4 linked regions of the Homo sapiens genome follow. The protein of the gene in region 1 purifies or fractionates together with the protein of each later gene. This does not show direct contact. Each region holds a gene or a part of one and is shown in the gene's direction. Other genes may lie near its edges.

Region 1 (5,255 bases):
GCCTGTGAAGCACCCAAGAGGTATAAAAAGGAATAATCCTTTGAGAAACAACAAAATTGAGTGGCTGGAGTCTAAAATTCATGGAGCATAGTCACAAGAGATGAAAGAGGTAAGGTAGACGGAAGGTCAGGTGTGTCAAGCCAAGAACTTTGGCCTTTATATATGCACATCAGCATTTTTTAAGCCTTAGATTTTAAAATGTTTTGGGAACTTCAGGCTTTCATTGAGATGCATGACCAGAGCTGCCTTGGATGAAGGGAAGATGGAGTGGGCCCCACACACACTTCAATAAAGGAGCTCTACTGCTGTTTGTTTTGTAGGGTTTCCTTATGATTTCCTTTAAACAAAGGGTACAGTTGCTTTAAAATAAAAAAAGGAAGAAACAAAAATTTTTTTAAATACGTAAGTAAAAAGTATGGGTGAGTGTGGGTATGTGTGGGTGTGTGGTGGGGGGAGTACACATGCTAAAATTCATACATACAAAATATTATGAAAGTGAGACCACAGGTATGGAAGATGCAAGCTTCACACTGCCTAGAGAGTGCTAAGCCAGTCACCCCGGGGAGTGGCACTCACTTTCTGGTGAGTTTCTCAAGGGTCTCCTCCTAATTGTTCCAGTGATTTCTTTATTCTCATCTCTTTCCACTTTGCTGTTTTATTTCATTATTTATTTACACAAGAAGTTCCTGTGTATTACAGAAAAATAGAAAATACAGATAAAAAGGTAAAAGAAATGTGACTATAATTCTACCATCTCACCATCCAGTAATAATCACTACAGATATTTTGATTGATTGACTCATAGAGACTCATAGAAAATTTTTTTTTACAAATATGGAAGCCAGTTTGTTGTAAGCTGAAATTTCGCACTCTTAAATTAAAAAAAAAAAAATACCTATTGTGTTTCAACCAGGAGATTCACAACAGACCTCATAAAGAAATATTTGATTGATTTGAGCTTTGACGGATGAGTAGGAGTTCACCAGGCAAAGGAGGAGGACAAGGAATTCCAGACTCAGGAAGCGCAGAACAAGGACCTGGAAAATAAAAGTGCATAGCCGATTTGGGGAATCTGGAAATGGTCAGGTGGGACTAAAATTATGGAAATGACAACTGAGGGAAAGCAGATGATGCTAGAAAGATGGAATGGGAAAGGCCTTGAACGCCATGCTAAGGAGCTTGCCTTGTTCCCTGTGGGCACAGGGAGCCAAAGAAAGTCTGTGGCCTGACTAGCGAAATGAGGCCAGCGCAGGTGGGCCATGGGGAGACTCCTGCCCCGCACCCCACCTTCGTGTGTCAGGAGGTGTCCCCAGCCTACAGGAGGGCTGCAAAGGGGGCCCTGGGTGTCCTCCATGGTGAACCCACTGTTTTCAGAAGACGAGGATGAGGCCCATTTCCAGAGACTGCCCAGCGGCAAAGTCCCCCGGGCCTTTAGCTGCTCAACCAGGACCAATTAGCAGACCCCAGAGAAGAAGCAATCAGGGGAGGGTGCTGAGCGAGGAGAAACATCAGTTTATAATTAGGTGGCCTAATCACCTGTGTAAATTGTGTATTTCTTATGATCGATGTGCTAAATGGCTCAGGTTTAATTAAGTTCTGCTGATTCATTCTCTTTGAAGACCTATTAAAGTGTGAGTCACAGCTTGCACCATTAACAACGGGGAGAGGAGCAACTTGAAAAGGGTGGCAGTTCCCTGCTGCCTCCATCCCCCTCCACTGTTGTCCCCACATGCCCACTCCCTAGGTAGGCTGGGCTTTGACCACCTGCTTCTCGGCTTCTCTGCCCAGAACCTGGTAGGGAGATGCTGGGCTGGATGGGAACCCAAGGGTTTTCTCACTCCTGATCCAGTTCTCCTTCCAGGATGATCCATGCTGCCTCAGAAGTGTCCCCTCTTAGCAGGGACCCAGAACACCCTGGTTTCTCCTGGTGATTGAGAATCCTATCCTATGCATGGGCCAGGGCCATCAATGAGCTTGTATTTTCCAGCCTCTTGTCTAATAACGAGTTTCCAAAATTCTACATGCTGAACTGCATTCTACCTTCTTCTCTGTTCCATATTATGCTTTTCTGCCTTCTCCCACCTTGTTCCCTTATTTGTAACTCTCTGTGGTCTGTAACCCAAGCATCAGCTTTCCTGGCAACCCCTCACAGCCTCCTCTTTTCCTGTAGGAAAGTTGAAGTGCTGACCTTCATCATTCCTGAGCTGCCCCCTTGGACACTGCTCTAACCTCATTTCCATGACTCCAGGCTGAATTCTATCTGTCTCTCCCAACACTGCTCTTGGCCTTCTGATTGGGTCTTTCCAGTCATAATTCCTCACCAGTATGAATTTTAGGCACCCCTCCTTATTCCAAGAGAGGCCACTAAAACTGTGAGACACAAGCACAACATCATCATCATCATCATCATCATCATCATCACCTCTCAAGGACAAACATTTATCCTGAGAATGTGTAGTTCAAAGCTAATGAGAAAACATATTTTTCTCACCAGGCTATGACTTGGCAGGCAGCCCCTCCCCCATGAAGTCAGCAGTCAGGTTGTTTTGCAGAGCAGAGTTTAGATCCTTTCCTTCTTCACCCCACCTCTAAATTACCTTCTTCCAGTACTCTTGGGAACAGGAAAAAGCCATCATGTCTTAAAAGCTGCTCCTTTGGTTACACAAGTGGAAGCTTTGAAATATTTATTTTATTATAGATTCTATTCTTAGTCATAAATCCTTGTTCACCTGAGTTTCCTTCTGGGGTAAATGGAGGAGACGGCTTATTTTCGTTATGACCCGTCTTCTGTTTCTACTCCTCTGTTCTCCATATTATTTCATTTCCTGTATTCTGGTTCCACACCCCACATTCTCTCCCACAGTTCTATAGTCCCATGAAGACCTCAACTCCCTGCTGTCCTTGACACCTCAGTTTTCCAGGTCAACCTGGAATCTTCCCTTTTGTAATTTTTTTTTTTTTTGCAGCTTCCTACAGAACTGCACTATATCATTTACTATCATCTAATATGCTGACTGACTGAATGAATGAAGGAGTAAATCCAATACTATCAAGCATGGCTTGTTCATTTTGTACTCCTGCAGACTGGCCCTCAGTGCCTATTAGGTGCTGGTTACAGAGATGACATTCACTGAGCTCTTGGAATGAATTAACACCTGCCATTTCTCTCTACATCAATTCTGACTGACTTCAGCTATATCCCTTAAACACAACACCAGCTCTAAACATAGAATAAATATCTTTTTTTAAAAACCCATGAAGTTAAAAAGGCAGTGTGGACTTAGGGAGGGAAGGGGGTAGAGAAGGAGAGGCAGAGATGAGGCTCTCCTACAGAGGTGGGTCACAGGCCAATAACTCACTCTAGTGGGGAGTAATGTTCAAAGCCTCACTGCCTGCGACTCCCAAGAAGCTTCCAAAAATCCACAATAGTGAGCGAAAGTACTTTGAAAGGATAAAAATGGATTAACAACAAAAATGAGGGCTAGTAGAAGGGAGTGAAAGCAAAAGCAAACTTGAAATCCCATTTCTACAACTGAGGCAACCGGGCCTGGTGGCTTCCCAGAGAGAAATCTCACTAGCCCTGTCCCTTTCACCAAGTAAACGCGTTCTGCAGGCAAGCCTGCGGTGAGTGCTTTTGAGCCATTCATCCTCCATCCCAGAGACGGAGGATTACAAATGTCAGGGTGGATTTTGCCTTAGTGACCTGATCATTCAATGCCTCTCTCTCCCTCCATTCTACTGATGGGGAGACTGAGGCCCAGATAATGAATCCAGAATGTGGCACAAGTTGCATAGTGGAACCAGGAACACAGCTTGGATTTTCTGATGTCCAGCTCACTGGATTTTCTACTATCCAATGACAGCAGGATCGATCATAAGCACCAAGAAAGAAAACAAGTTAGTTGATTTCTTCAAGTGTTAAACCCTCAGAAGTGAAATCTATTTTTCACTGAGTGTCTACTCCAATTCTTAGTATGTGATGGCTTTACCTCTCTTATTTGGGGTAAAAAGAAAGTGGGCTGAGTGGGAGTCAGAAGACCTCAGCTGGAGCTCAGACTCCCACCCCTCCTTTGTAGCAGCTTCAGCTCACGTCAGTCATCCTTTCTGATGTGTGACATCTGACATTGTACAAAGTTTTAGACGAATCCTGTGGAAGTCTTTTCTGTCCAACAGGATTGAGAGCAGAGCCTGAATTCTACTTTTATCCATTTAAGACATATATTTGTTAAGCTCTCTCGGGGAGCCAGTTCCTCAGCTGGTCTCAGATACAGTCAGTTACAGTCCCTACTCAGATACAGTCCCCACCCTCCAGGGGCTCACAGCCTAGAGATGGATGACAGCAGACATACGAGGCTCCCTTCCCTGGGAGGCTTAGAGTTCTCTGAGCATGAGTGTAAGTGACCCTGGGACAAGAAGTACCTCGGTTCTTAATTATTTCCCAAGAGCGGTTTTTCTTACAAGGAATGTGGAAAAAATCAGGAGAGGCAAGGTGTTAGCTAGAATGGTAGGAATTCCACTGGGCCCCAAAAGTGAAGGTGATCTGGGGAGAGGGTTTGTGCCTTTTCTACAATCCCTAAAATCACAACACAGGGACAATCTGCAGTCCAATTAAGACAAGGATTTTAATTCTGTCCTCAGAAGTCCATGGTCAGGTAAACAAACCCACTGCCACCGGGTTTGGTCCTTCCTCCAATGTCCTCTGTTACCTGGCTCCAACCAGGAGCTACAGGCAATGCTGGTTGAGTCTCCCATTCTGCCAATGGGGCAATCTTCCTTACTCTCCATTGTGTGGCCAGGTTCAAGGACCACTTTTCTGTCCTTATCATAATTGGTCTCTCTGCAGCATGGACCCAGCTGACTGTGCCTTCTTTCAGTCCTCACTTTCCTCCTCCTTCAGAGGCCTCCCCTTCTCGGTCTCTTTGTTGCCTTCCCTACTGCTGAACCTCTACATGGTGAAGGCACCGCAAACTTGCTCCTGGGTCCTGTCCTCTTCCCCACCTACACTTTCTGCCTATGTGATACCCATTCCCATGACTACAAAGGCTAAATAGATGCTGATAGGTCCTTAATTTGAACCTCAGTCCTCAGTTCCCCTTTGAGCTCCAAACTTATCAATGCATCTTCCTATTCCATAGCTTCCTTTAGCTAGCCAATAGGCATCACACATTTAACATGTCCAAGATGAACACCTGATTTCCCCATAATACAAACACATGAACACACACACACACACACATCTTTTGCTCAAGCCAAAA
Region 2 (3,717 bases), on another chromosome or scaffold:
TATGTAATGTTTTAAGACATTTAATCGTTTAGCAAATATTTATGCTAGGCAATAGGGATGAAATATGCTCACTATGTTAAGGATACAATGAAAAGATGTGGTTGTCATCAGTGAACTTACAGAGGAAGAATCAGATCAGCAAACAATTAAAAGTTAGTGTGTGCAAAAGGAATCGCTGCAAATTGAAATTGTTCGGCTGGGTGCGGTGGGTCACGCCTGTAATCCCAGCACTTTGGGGGGCCGAGGCAGGCAGATCACAAGGTCAGTAGTTCGAGACCAGAATGACAATATGGTGAAACCCCGTCTCTACTAAAAATAGAAAAAGTTAGCTGGGCGTGGTGGCGCTTGCCTGTAATCCCAGCTACTCAGGAGGCTGTGGCAGGAGAATCGCTTGAACCCAGGAGGCGGAAGGTTGCAGTGAGCTGAGATTGTGCCACTGCACTCCAGCCAGGACGACAGAGTGAGACTCCGTTTAAAAAAAAAAAAATTGAAATTGTTCCTTATATAAGTAAGAGGAAGACGCAACATCAGTAAGATTTGAGTTGTCAAGGAGGGCTTCTTGGAAGAGGCAACTAAACAGTGACCTGATAAGAGTATAGGAGTTAGGGAGAGTGGAAAGTTTTCCAGGCAAGAATTGGCACTAGTGATGTCAGTAGAAGCCAGATCACACTGTGCCTTGTGAGTACTTTTAGGGATCTGAATATTCTACAAGCCTTTTTAGAAAGGTTTAAGCTGGGAAGTGACATGATTAGATTTGTGTTTTTGAAAGAACATTGGCAGCACTCAGAGTGGAACAAGACTAGAGACAGAGATAAGAGATACCACTGAGGAGCCTATTGCTGTTATCCAGGCAAGAGATGATAGTAGCCTGAACAGTGAGATTACCAATAAGATTTTACATGAGGCATAATTATAAACAGCAGAGAAGTAACAGAAGTTGCCAGAATATGCTGTTCTGGGTGATGGCTGTTTTAGGCATAGATGATTCAGAGCTGCCTGAATTTCCTCATAAGTAGAGTTGTCACTCTCCTTCTTAATAGGAAATTGGCACTAGGACCACACTGACCTGTGTTTTAATTTTAAGGATGTATTATCTTTATTACCGATCTTCAGGTAGTAATGACCCTTAGCATTTTAAAAGTTATTGTTTCTCCCTACTCTTTTCTTTATTTAATTAAGGAAACTCCTTTTTAAAGTATTAAGACTCCTTGTAGACTCCTTTCAATTAATTTGTTCAGCATATTAGTTATTACATATATTGTACTTGCTATGTTTATATGTTTCTTGAATAAGTGGCCATATTTTATGCGTGCTAAATCCCTTTGCCTCTGTCCCCTGCTCCCTACCTAACTTATTATGGGAACATATTAGCCAGTAAGTGATGGTGAGTTCAGACTTTTGCATGTTGTACCATATTCAGAAATGATTTACACAGACTCTCATTTTGTGTCCCGAGTCAGCTGCTTCCCTTCCCTCAACACAACACACTACCATGTCTTTTTTACAGTCTCTCTGGAATAAACTTAGAAACCAGGATCTAAAGCTTTCTCTGCATTACAAAAGGAATCATTGCAATAGTTCCTTAAATAGAAATTTCCCTAATGTATATAAGAAATTGATTTGTACAATCGATATAATTGTACATAATTATCCCATGTAATTTTAAGATAATTATGTACAATTATATTATTTTTCATATAATAGTAATGTCTGACCTGGCCAACTTTCAAAAACTATTCTTTAATTCCTTTTGCTGGTCTCTGTTTATATATAAGAACACAAAACATTTTTAATGAAAATTGAAGCTTTAAACTATCAAGAGCTAGATGATCTTTTTAGTTCCCTTTCCGAACCTCATATTGCATGAAACTAAGAAGTTAAGAATTTAAGGTAGTAAAAACAACCTATCTCATCAATAATCTGATCATTATTTTTATCTTATAATTCTATCAGGGATTTGTCGTTTAACATTTGAAAGTGATTTCAGTTTTGTGTGTATCAAAGTAAAGTAAGAAGTTCCCTACACAGTGGGTAAATAAGTTAATGGTTGGAAAAATGATAATGAAAGCTGACTTGAACAATTTAACTAGACCAAGATCACTAGTTTGTTTTTTTAGGAGGCTTATCACTTTTGATTTGATTATTCACATTCATTTATTTAAGAACTAAATTGCACACAATATACCACATGTTGACTCCACCTATGAACTTGTCTTTTTCAGTGAGTTAACAAAAGGAACCTGCCTTAGGTTTGCTGGAAGTGGAAATGAAGAGAATCGAAACAATGCCTATCCTCACAAGGCAGGTTTTGCCCAACCTTCAGGCCTTTCCTTGGCCTCTGAAGATCCCTGGAGCTGCTTGTTTGTAGCAGATAGTGAGAGCAGTACAGTGAGAACCGTTTCACTGAAAGATGGAGCAGTGAAGCACCTCGTAGGAGGAGAAAGAGACCCCATGGTAATGACAGTCACTCTTGCACAGTGCGCTCGGACACTGAGCAAGCTGTCAATTTTGTGAATTATGGAAAGTTAATAAGATTTAAGAGAGACCATCCTTGGCCTATCTGCGAATCAAAATGAAAGTCAGACCAAAGGAAATGTGAATGTAAAGCAACGTGAGGAACACACCATCTAAGAAAAGTGAACTGACTCTACTTTATTATGTATAAATGTTAAGGTTTCAGGGAGAAAGAAAGGATGAAGCATTGATTATTGGAGAAAAGAAAAAAATGTAAATTAGATATTGGGCAGTGGGGTGGAAAGAGCACCAGACTAGTGGACTTGACCTATTCCTGACCAGATGTAGTATTGTGAGTAAAACTACTAAGCACCACCAATTAATACAGGTTCAAAATACTGTCATTTTTTTTCTAATCTGAATGAAGTATCCAACCCTATTTATATGAAAATCAGCATTTTCCCTTTTAACTTAAATACCATTTGTAACTGTTTGAATTTTCCTTCATATTCTAACAAAACACTGTAAAAATTATAATAACTGCTGTTTCTTTTCTTTTAAAAAAAATTAAAGAATTTATTTGCTTTTGGTGATGTTGATGGAGTAGGAATCAATGCAAAGCTTCAACACCCCCTTGGAGTAACATGGGACAAAAAAAGGAATTTACTTTATGTTGCAGACTCCTACAATCACAAGGTGAGTCGTGACAGAATTATATAATATCTTGCTTTTTGTGTGTGGCATTTAAAATGCTGAAAGATCTGTGAGCCTCCTACAACTGCCACTCTAAAATATAGAAAGGAGTAACAGTCTTTGACAACTATAACCCAGCCTGTTCTGCTCTTTTCTTGGTCCTTTCTTTGCCAAGAGGTTATGATGGTATTCTGAACTAGGGAAAGCACAGAACCAGTTCCAATGGCAATAGCCAACAGTTGTGAATTGCAACCCATCAAAGCTGCTTAGTAACATATTCAGTATATCAAGAGAAGGCAAGTAGCAGGGAAATTTATATGTCATCTAACAAATGAACGTTTTTGAGCTGTTGCATAGTTACAGTGCTTGTTAGTAAATAATTTTGTTTTCAGCATTTCCATTTTTGTCTATTAAATTGTCTTAAGTTTTATTGCATTTTTACTTTTTACAAAAATCAGTGGATAATAAATGTTCATGCAGTACTTCATGATGTGAGACCATAAATTTAATATAATTGAGACATAACTGTCAATCATTAAGTTTAACAAAGGTAGCAAATTCTCAGGCAAT
Region 3 (3,717 bases), on another chromosome or scaffold:
TGATTTTGGCCTACTCATCTCCCTTAGTAAGTCCCTTGCCGGGAATGAATTGATCTATAGGCGAGGTCTCATCACAGGCCTCTGATTCATCCAAAGGAGAAGGCAATGCAGGTTTATAGGGCATCCCTGAAAGGTGGCTACTGCACTTGACGGTGGTTATCTCATTTAATTCTGTGAGGTATAGGTAGTGTTCTCTTCATTTTAGAGACTAGAACTGCTGTTCTAGTTTAGAGATTCTAAGTAACTACTGATGTCCCACAGCAGCTTGTACAGAGTCAGCCTGAGATCTGGCCCTGTAGCAGCCTAGCTGTATGATTCTGGAAATTATGTTCTTTACACTGTATGGACAAATTCGATTTGTTCGTAAATCACAAGTGGCACTGAAGGTGTTTTATTTCTCATCTCATTACACTGAACAGTTAAGTGACATTTTTTTACATTCCCCTCTTTCTTTTTTCCTCTCCATTGCCTTAGAGCATACTCCTTCCATGTTAGCGCAGATGGTCAGATGCAGCCTGTCCCTTTTCCACCCGACGCCCTCATCGGACCTGGAATCCCCCGGCATGCTCGCCAGATCAACACCCTCAACCACGGGGAGGTGGTGTGCGCGGTGACCATCAGCAACCCCACGAGACACGTGTACACGGGTGGGAAGGGCTGCGTCAAGGTCTGGGACATCAGCCACCCAGGCAATAAGAGTCCTGTCTCCCAGCTCGACTGTCTGGTGAGTGAACATGGATGAACAAGACTTAGACTTTCATTCAGAAAACAGGAGGGGCTGATGAGAGAACTGTATGTATGAGCAACACCACACAGTATTGATCCCAGGTGGATAGTTGCTCTTCAGGGGACTGCGATCTTTCACTTGGAGGTGTGTCTTTTGCTTCCTAGACACACAGTGATCTAGTTCTTCATGTGTGGCATGTGCACCATACTGATTTCATTAACTCTGCCTCCCATGGGAAAAGGCAAACCGCTTGTTTTCCTCTCTGATGGTTAAGCAAACTAAGAGCCCATACAGTGACTATGAGTGTGCACCTAAATATCATCTGTCACATGTAAAGAGTAACTTACTGCCTCATGTGGCAAATACTAGATAGCCCCTCAGCTGCTTCATTGGCCTTTTCCCTTGAGTTCCTTAGGAAATGTCAGTTTAGTAGAATTTTTGCTATAGCATGAGGCTACATCAGTTGAACATAATTAAATATACATAAGATTCCCGTAACCTCATGAGCTAGGAGGAACTTTTTTTTTCTGTAACTTAACACTCCATGATCAAGTCTTGCCTCTGGTGCAGCTTTCATCAAATGCATGATGCCCTTTAGTCACGTAATGCAGGCCCAGGCAAAAGGAACAGACTGCCAGGGATCTACCCCCTGAAACTTTCTTGACATCAGTAGCAGGACCTTTCAACAGCAGAACTGAGCCTGAGTCTACCAAGGTTCCAAGTTTGGATACTCCAAGACTGTGAGAGCTCCTGCATTAGTGTACGTGTGTATCTGTGTGTGCAAATGATGCAAGCAGTTGGTTAATTTGGTGGTGGTGGGAGTGGGTCTAGAGCTTTGCATTTTGATGCTAATTAAGATTAAATATCTCAGTACTACATTTTGTAGATCAACTTTAAGTACTTCCCTAATTTCATGTAATTTTCTAGCATTAATCCACTTTATCATTGTCATAAGTATAAACGGCTCATTAAACCAGGAGGGAACACAATACTTTTATGGATTTCTGCTCTCATGTTAATGCTGTTTTCCTTTCCTCATGAGTAATCTCTTGATGGTTTTTGTCTCTACAGAACAGGGATAACTACATCCGTTCCTGCAGATTGCTCCCTGATGGTCGCACCCTAATTGTTGGAGGGGAAGCCAGTACTTTGTCCATTTGGGACCTGGCGGCTCCAACCCCACGCATCAAGGCAGAGCTGACATCCTCGGCCCCCGCCTGCTATGCCCTGGCCATCAGCCCCGATTCCAAGGTCTGCTTCTCATGCTGCAGCGACGGCAACATCGCTGTGTGGGATCTGCACAACCAGACCTTGGTGAGGTAGGTTAGCAGGATCTGTTACCAGGTTGTGAGGAGGAGCCGATTTTACCATATTTTGCCAAAGTGCTGTGTATATAGGTATGGGTGTGTGTGTGTGTGTGTGTGTGTGTGTGTGTGTGTGTGTGTGTGTGTAAAGTGATATAATTATCTTACTAAAAATTGTTCAGAACAGGTCCATTTTAAGATGTTAAAAATAAATTATCAGTGTGAAAATCTTGTTTTCTGTAGTACTTGAACTTCATAAAATGAGGTCTTTTTTCCTTCCTTGACTTATACTAAAGCATCGCCAATTTGTTTTAATAAAATGAGGTCAATTTGACATAATTAATGTACATAAAGTTTCCATGACCCCATGAGCTCCATGGACATCTGTAATTTGCCATCTGTGCTTGCTAACAAACGATTATTGTTGATAGAGCCTCACTGAGAAGATTCACAGTGTATGGTACTGTCTTGAGTGCCATACACATCTAACAGGTTCATTCCTTCAGCAGATATTTAGCAACTCCCATGGGCCTATGCACTGTATTGGGTGCAACTCACTCTGAAATGGTCTAGATTATCTGTTGTCCCACCTTTGAGGTTGGATAGATATAACTTTACAAATGAGATTATAAAAGATTGGTGTTGGTAGATGGGAAAAGCTCTGAAATGATTTTCTAGGTGTCAATACCCTAAGAGATTAGCAAGCAAGTAGAATGATCAGCTACAGGTATGAAAAGGTTGTAACCAGAGGTAGCTACAAGTCAGGTGTGTAAAAGAAGAAGGCTTTACTATCTGTTATTTCAAAGTACTGAAACCTATAGATCCCAAAACAAATCATCACTTTCATTGCTTATCAGGCAGCCTCTTATGAGAAGCTGCTTCTAACCCTGTTTTCTCCTGGTGACCTTGGTACGTTTTGCCATGAGTGATTCCTGGGCCAGTAGTTCACACTGAGTGTCTTTCCAGGTGCCTTACTTGAGAGCCTCGCCTTCCGTCTTGCACAGCCACCCACAGACACATTGCTGCTCACTGGCAGGACTGGTCCTGTCGCTCCCTGTGCCATCCCCAGTCCTTCTTTAAAGGGAAAATTAAATTCTCTCTCCCTCATACCACAGTAATAGAATAGGTCTCAGAATATATCTTTAGTTAGTGCATATATGTGTAGGCGTGTTTTCTTTTGTTAATTTCAGAGATTTTTTTCCCATTAGTAATATCAGTCATGTTTTCATGAAAAAGTAATTTGAGGAATTCCTAAGTATTCAAAACCAAGCAAAAAGTACAGGACATGTGGCATCTCTTTGTATATGCTTTGTTATTACTTTGAATAATTAGAAACCATAATAAACCAAAATGAAATCTACAAATAAGGCCTGCATTGAAATTGAATCATCAAGGAATTCTAAATTGATTTTAACTAAAAGCTAACTTTTCAAGGGCTTTCCCTCCATTTTGACATTTTCAGGCAATTCCAGGGCCACACAGATGGAGCCAGCTGTATTGACATTTCTAATGATGGCACCAAGCTCTGGACAGGTGGTTTGGACAACACGGTCAGGTCCTGGGACCTGCGCGAGGGGCGGCAGCTGCAGCAGCACGACTTCACCTCCCAGGTATGATCCGTGGCTGAGGCATTTTAAAGATACGGTTTTAGGCTGAGGTGGGCGGATCACCAGGTCAGGGAATCGA
Region 4 (3,717 bases), on another chromosome or scaffold:
GTTTGTTTGTTTTTAAAAAAAGAAAAAAAAGCTGGGCGCGGTGGCTCACGCCTGTAATCCCAGCACTTTGGGAGGCCGAGGCGGGCGGATCACCTGAGGTCAGGAGTTCGAGACCAGCCTCAACATGGAGAAACCCCGTCTCTACTAAAAATACAAAAAATTATCCGGGCATGGTGGTGCATGCCTGTAATCCCAGCTACTCAGGAGGCTAAGGCAGGAGAATTGCTTGAACCTGGGAGGCGGAGGTTGCGGTGAGCCAAGATCGTGCCATTGCACCCCAGCCTGGGCAACAAGAGCGAAACTCCGTCTCAAAAAAAAAAAAGGCCAGGCGTGGTGTTTCATGCCTGTAATCCCAGCACTTTGGGAGGCCGAGGCAGACTGATCACGAGGTCAAGAGATCGATACCATCCTGGCCAACATGGTGAAACCCCGTCTCTAATAAAAATACAAAAATTAGCTGGGCGTGGTGGCACATGCCTGTAGTCCCAGCTACTCGGAAGGCTGAGGCAGGAGAATCACTTGAACTGGAAGGCAGGGAGCAGAGATCGCACCTCTGTCCTCCAGCCTGGTGACAGAGCGAGATTCCATCTAAAAAAAAAAGAAAAGAAAAGAAAGAAAAAGTGAAAGTTTTAAGTGCTATGGGGAAAGAAATCAAGTGTGATAAGGGCATCAGGAGTACGAGGGTGAAGACAGGTTGCAGCCCTAAATAGGGAGGTCAGTTATTATTGAGTAAATGAGACCAAAGGGAAGACTTGAAGGAGATGAGAGAATTAGCCATGCAGAGACCTGGGGGAAGAGAATTCCAGGAAGAAGGATCAGTCAGTGTCAAGGCCTAAGTCAAGAAGGTTAGAAGAGCTAGAAACCATCAAGGGGGAAGAGCGGCAGACATGAAGAGACTGTGTACGGACAGGAAGATCAGGTGCAGCTTTGTAGGCCATTTTTAGAATTTGAGTTGCGTTTTCCTCCGAGTGAAATGAGAAACTGCTGCAGGGTTTTGAGCAGGGGAATGACAAGCTCTTATTTATGTTTTAATAGAGCCTCCCCTCCCCTGCTGCTGCACTGAAAATAGATGGGGGGTGGGGGGAAGGGTGCCCCTGCAGTATTTCTGGCTCAGACCAGTTGGCGGCAGTGAGGTGGTGAGAAGTGGTCAGATTCTGAATGTATTTTGCAGGTAGAGCTGACAGGATTTGCTAATTGATCGGATATGGGGTATGGAGTGTGGGCGAGAAAGAAAGGAGTCAAAGGTGACAGGTGACTCTGAGGTTTTTGCCATAAGGAACTGGAACGATGCATTAGCCACTGAGCAGGAAAGACTGTGGTGGAAGGGGTTGGGGGGAGAGCAGAAGTTTGCTTGGGACATGTTGAGTCTGAGATGCTTATTAGCCATCCAAATGTGATAGAGGGGGCAGTCAGGTACACAACTCTGGGTTTGGGAGAAAGGTCTGGATTGGAGAGACATTTGGGAGTTGGCTACATATAGATGGTATCTCAAGCCATGAGACTAGTTGAGACCACCAAAGGAGTGTAGGTGAAATGACGGAGAAGAGAACAGGGTATCTAACGTTAAGGGGAGGAACAAGGAAAGGAGACTGGGAAAGAGCAGCTAGTGAGGTAGGAGTCAACCAAGAGAGGGTGCAGCCCTGGAGGTCAGGTGAAGACAGTGTGTCAAAGAAGGATGTATGTTCAGGCTGCTGATGGGCCAATAGAGGAGGACTGAGCATTGAGCATTACATGGAGCAAAAACACAGAGGTTCTTGGTGACCTTGACAAGAACAGATGCAGTGGAGAGATGGAGGCCAACGCCTGAGTGGGGTGGGTTCAAGGGAGAATGGGGGAGGGGAACTAGAGGTAGCAAGTACAGATAACTCTTGCGATGAGTTTTGCTGCAAGTGAGAGCAAATACTGGGACTGAGGGGAAACCAGGAGATTAAGAGAATTTTTTTTTAATGATGAAAGAAATAACAGTAGGTTTACCTGCGGATGGGGATGATCCAGTAAAAAAGGAAAACATGGCTGGGCACGGTGACTCACACCTGTAATCCCAGCATTTTGGGAGGGCGAGGTGGATGGATCACCTGAGGTCAAGAGTTCAAGACCAACCTGGCCAGCATGGTGAAACCCCTTCTCTACTAAAAATACAAAAAAATTAGCCAGGCGTGGTGGTGCACACCTGTAATCCCAGCTACTCAGGAGGCTGAAGCAGGATAATCACTTGAACTGGGGAGGCAGAGGTTGCAGTGAGCTGAGATGGTGCCACTGCACTCCAGCCTGGGCGACAAGAGTGAAACTCCCCCCGTCTCAAAAAAAAAGAAAGAAAAAGAAAAGGAAAACATGGGTGTCACAGAGGACCACAGAATGGCTTAATTTATGTCCTTGAGCAGGTGAGAAGGAGGAGACCTAGTGCACAAGTGGAAAGACAGATAGGGACCGAAGAATGAGCCAACCTGCTCTCGGCTAGCAGCTGCCCCATAGCAGTGCAGGCATGGGATAGAACTCAGCTCTCCTCAGTCCATGAGGCCTCCTAGCTCTAAAAGCCCGCACCCAAACGCCCTCACCTGGCTCCCAGCCCCTGCCCTACACCCCATACCCTGGGGTAGCCGGGCAAGCAGCACTTACATACCCATGCCCATACAGTGCCCATACATGCCCATACAGTGACCTCAGGCCTGGCGGAGGGCACTCCCCTCCGATTTCCACACTGCTGCCTCCCCAAGGGGATGGATGTTGGCTTGAGAGGGAAGGGGAGTCTGTGATCTGTGGGCAGGGGTTGCATCAGGGAATAAAGATCAGGTAACAGGACGCCTGTGGCGTGAGGCGTTCTGAGAATGGTAATGGGTTGGGTTTGGTTGCCTCTCATGTTCTGGGGGAACGTTGTCTGAACGTGAATCTCTGGTTCTAGGGCCAGCATCTCGCTCCGTGGAGCGCCTCAAGGAGATGATCAAGGCCGGGATGAACATTGCGCGACTCAACTTCTCCCACGGCTCCCACGAGGTGCGGGACGGGCCGCCGGGCAGTGGGTGGGGCAGGAGGATGCCTCGAGGTCCTGGCCACCTTCCCCTGAAACCCTCGCTCCGCTCCCTCCCCCAGTACCATGCTGAGTCCATCGCCAACGTCCGGGAGGCGGTGGAGAGCTTTGCAGGTTCCCCACTCAGCTACCGGCCCGTGGCCATCGCCCTGGACACCAAGGGACCGGAGATCCGCACTGGGATCCTGCAGGGGGTGAGCAGTGGGGCTGGGACTCGCTGGGCCAGGGCCGGAAAGGCGGCGCCTGTAGGGTTGGGCCCAGGCGTGGGCAGGGGCGGGTCCCGGACTCCGGGGCTCAGAACTCACATCTCCTCTGGCTCCCTCCTTAGGGTCCAGAGTCGGAAGTGGAGCTGGTGAAGGGCTCCCAGGTGCTGGTGACTGTGGACCCCGCGTTCCGGACGCGGGGGAACGCGAACACCGTGTGGGTGGACTACCCCAATATTGTCCGGGTCGTGCCGGTGGGGGGCCGCATCTACATTGACGACGGGCTCATCTCCCTAGTGGTCCAGAAAATCGGTGCGGACGCGCCTCCCGCCCTGACCACATCCGTGCGCTGGGCACATTCCCTTCTCCTTGGCTCCCCCATCAGCCCTCAGACCGATCACACCTTCCCCTGGCCACGCGTTTTTGCCAGCCCGTCCCAGGAGTCCCCAGCGTGTAGACTCTGCGCTCACCCTGGGTTTGGGCTGGACT

The links. The genes of interacting proteins can lie anywhere in the genome.
Region 2: the proteins of ISX (region 1) and NHLRC2 purify together in Homo sapiens (co-immunoprecipitation; one large-scale study listed by IntAct). This does not show direct contact.
Region 3: the proteins of ISX (region 1) and TLE4 purify together in Homo sapiens (affinity purification with mass spectrometry; one large-scale study listed by BioGRID and IntAct). This does not show direct contact.
Region 4: the proteins of ISX (region 1) and PKLR purify together in Homo sapiens (affinity purification with mass spectrometry; one large-scale study listed by BioGRID and IntAct). This does not show direct contact.

The regions. Positions count from the first base shown.
Region 1 is NC_000022.11:35,075,221-35,080,475, forward strand, and holds part of ISX (intestine-specific homeobox), read left to right. Parts: intron 1-576; exon of another isoform or gene 577-751; intron 752-5,255. UniProt on the Homo sapiens protein: Transcription factor that regulates gene expression in intestine. May participate in vitamin A metabolism most likely by regulating BCO1 expression in the intestine.
Region 2 is NC_000010.11:113,899,444-113,903,160, forward strand, and holds part of NHLRC2 (NHL repeat-containing protein 2), read left to right. Parts: intron 1-2,222; coding exon 2,223-2,454; intron 2,455-3,027; coding exon 3,028-3,150; intron 3,151-3,717. UniProt on the Homo sapiens protein: Required for normal embryonic development.
Region 3 is NC_000009.12:79,718,248-79,721,964, forward strand, and holds part of TLE4 (transducin-like enhancer protein 4), read left to right. Parts: intron 1-474; coding exon 475-724; intron 725-1,325; coding exon of another isoform or gene 1,326-1,391; exon of another isoform or gene 1,392-1,477; intron 1,478-1,798; coding exon 1,799-2,046; intron 2,047-3,493; coding exon 3,494-3,641; intron 3,642-3,717. UniProt on the Homo sapiens protein: Transcriptional corepressor that binds to a number of transcription factors. Inhibits the transcriptional activation mediated by PAX5, and by CTNNB1 and TCF family members in Wnt signaling.
Region 4 is NC_000001.11:155,294,939-155,298,655, reverse strand, and holds part of PKLR (pyruvate kinase PKLR), read left to right. Parts: intron 1-2,899; coding exon 2,900-2,991; intron 2,992-3,087; coding exon 3,088-3,219; intron 3,220-3,353; coding exon 3,354-3,540; intron 3,541-3,717. UniProt on the Homo sapiens protein: Pyruvate kinase that catalyzes the conversion of phosphoenolpyruvate to pyruvate with the synthesis of ATP, and which plays a key role in glycolysis.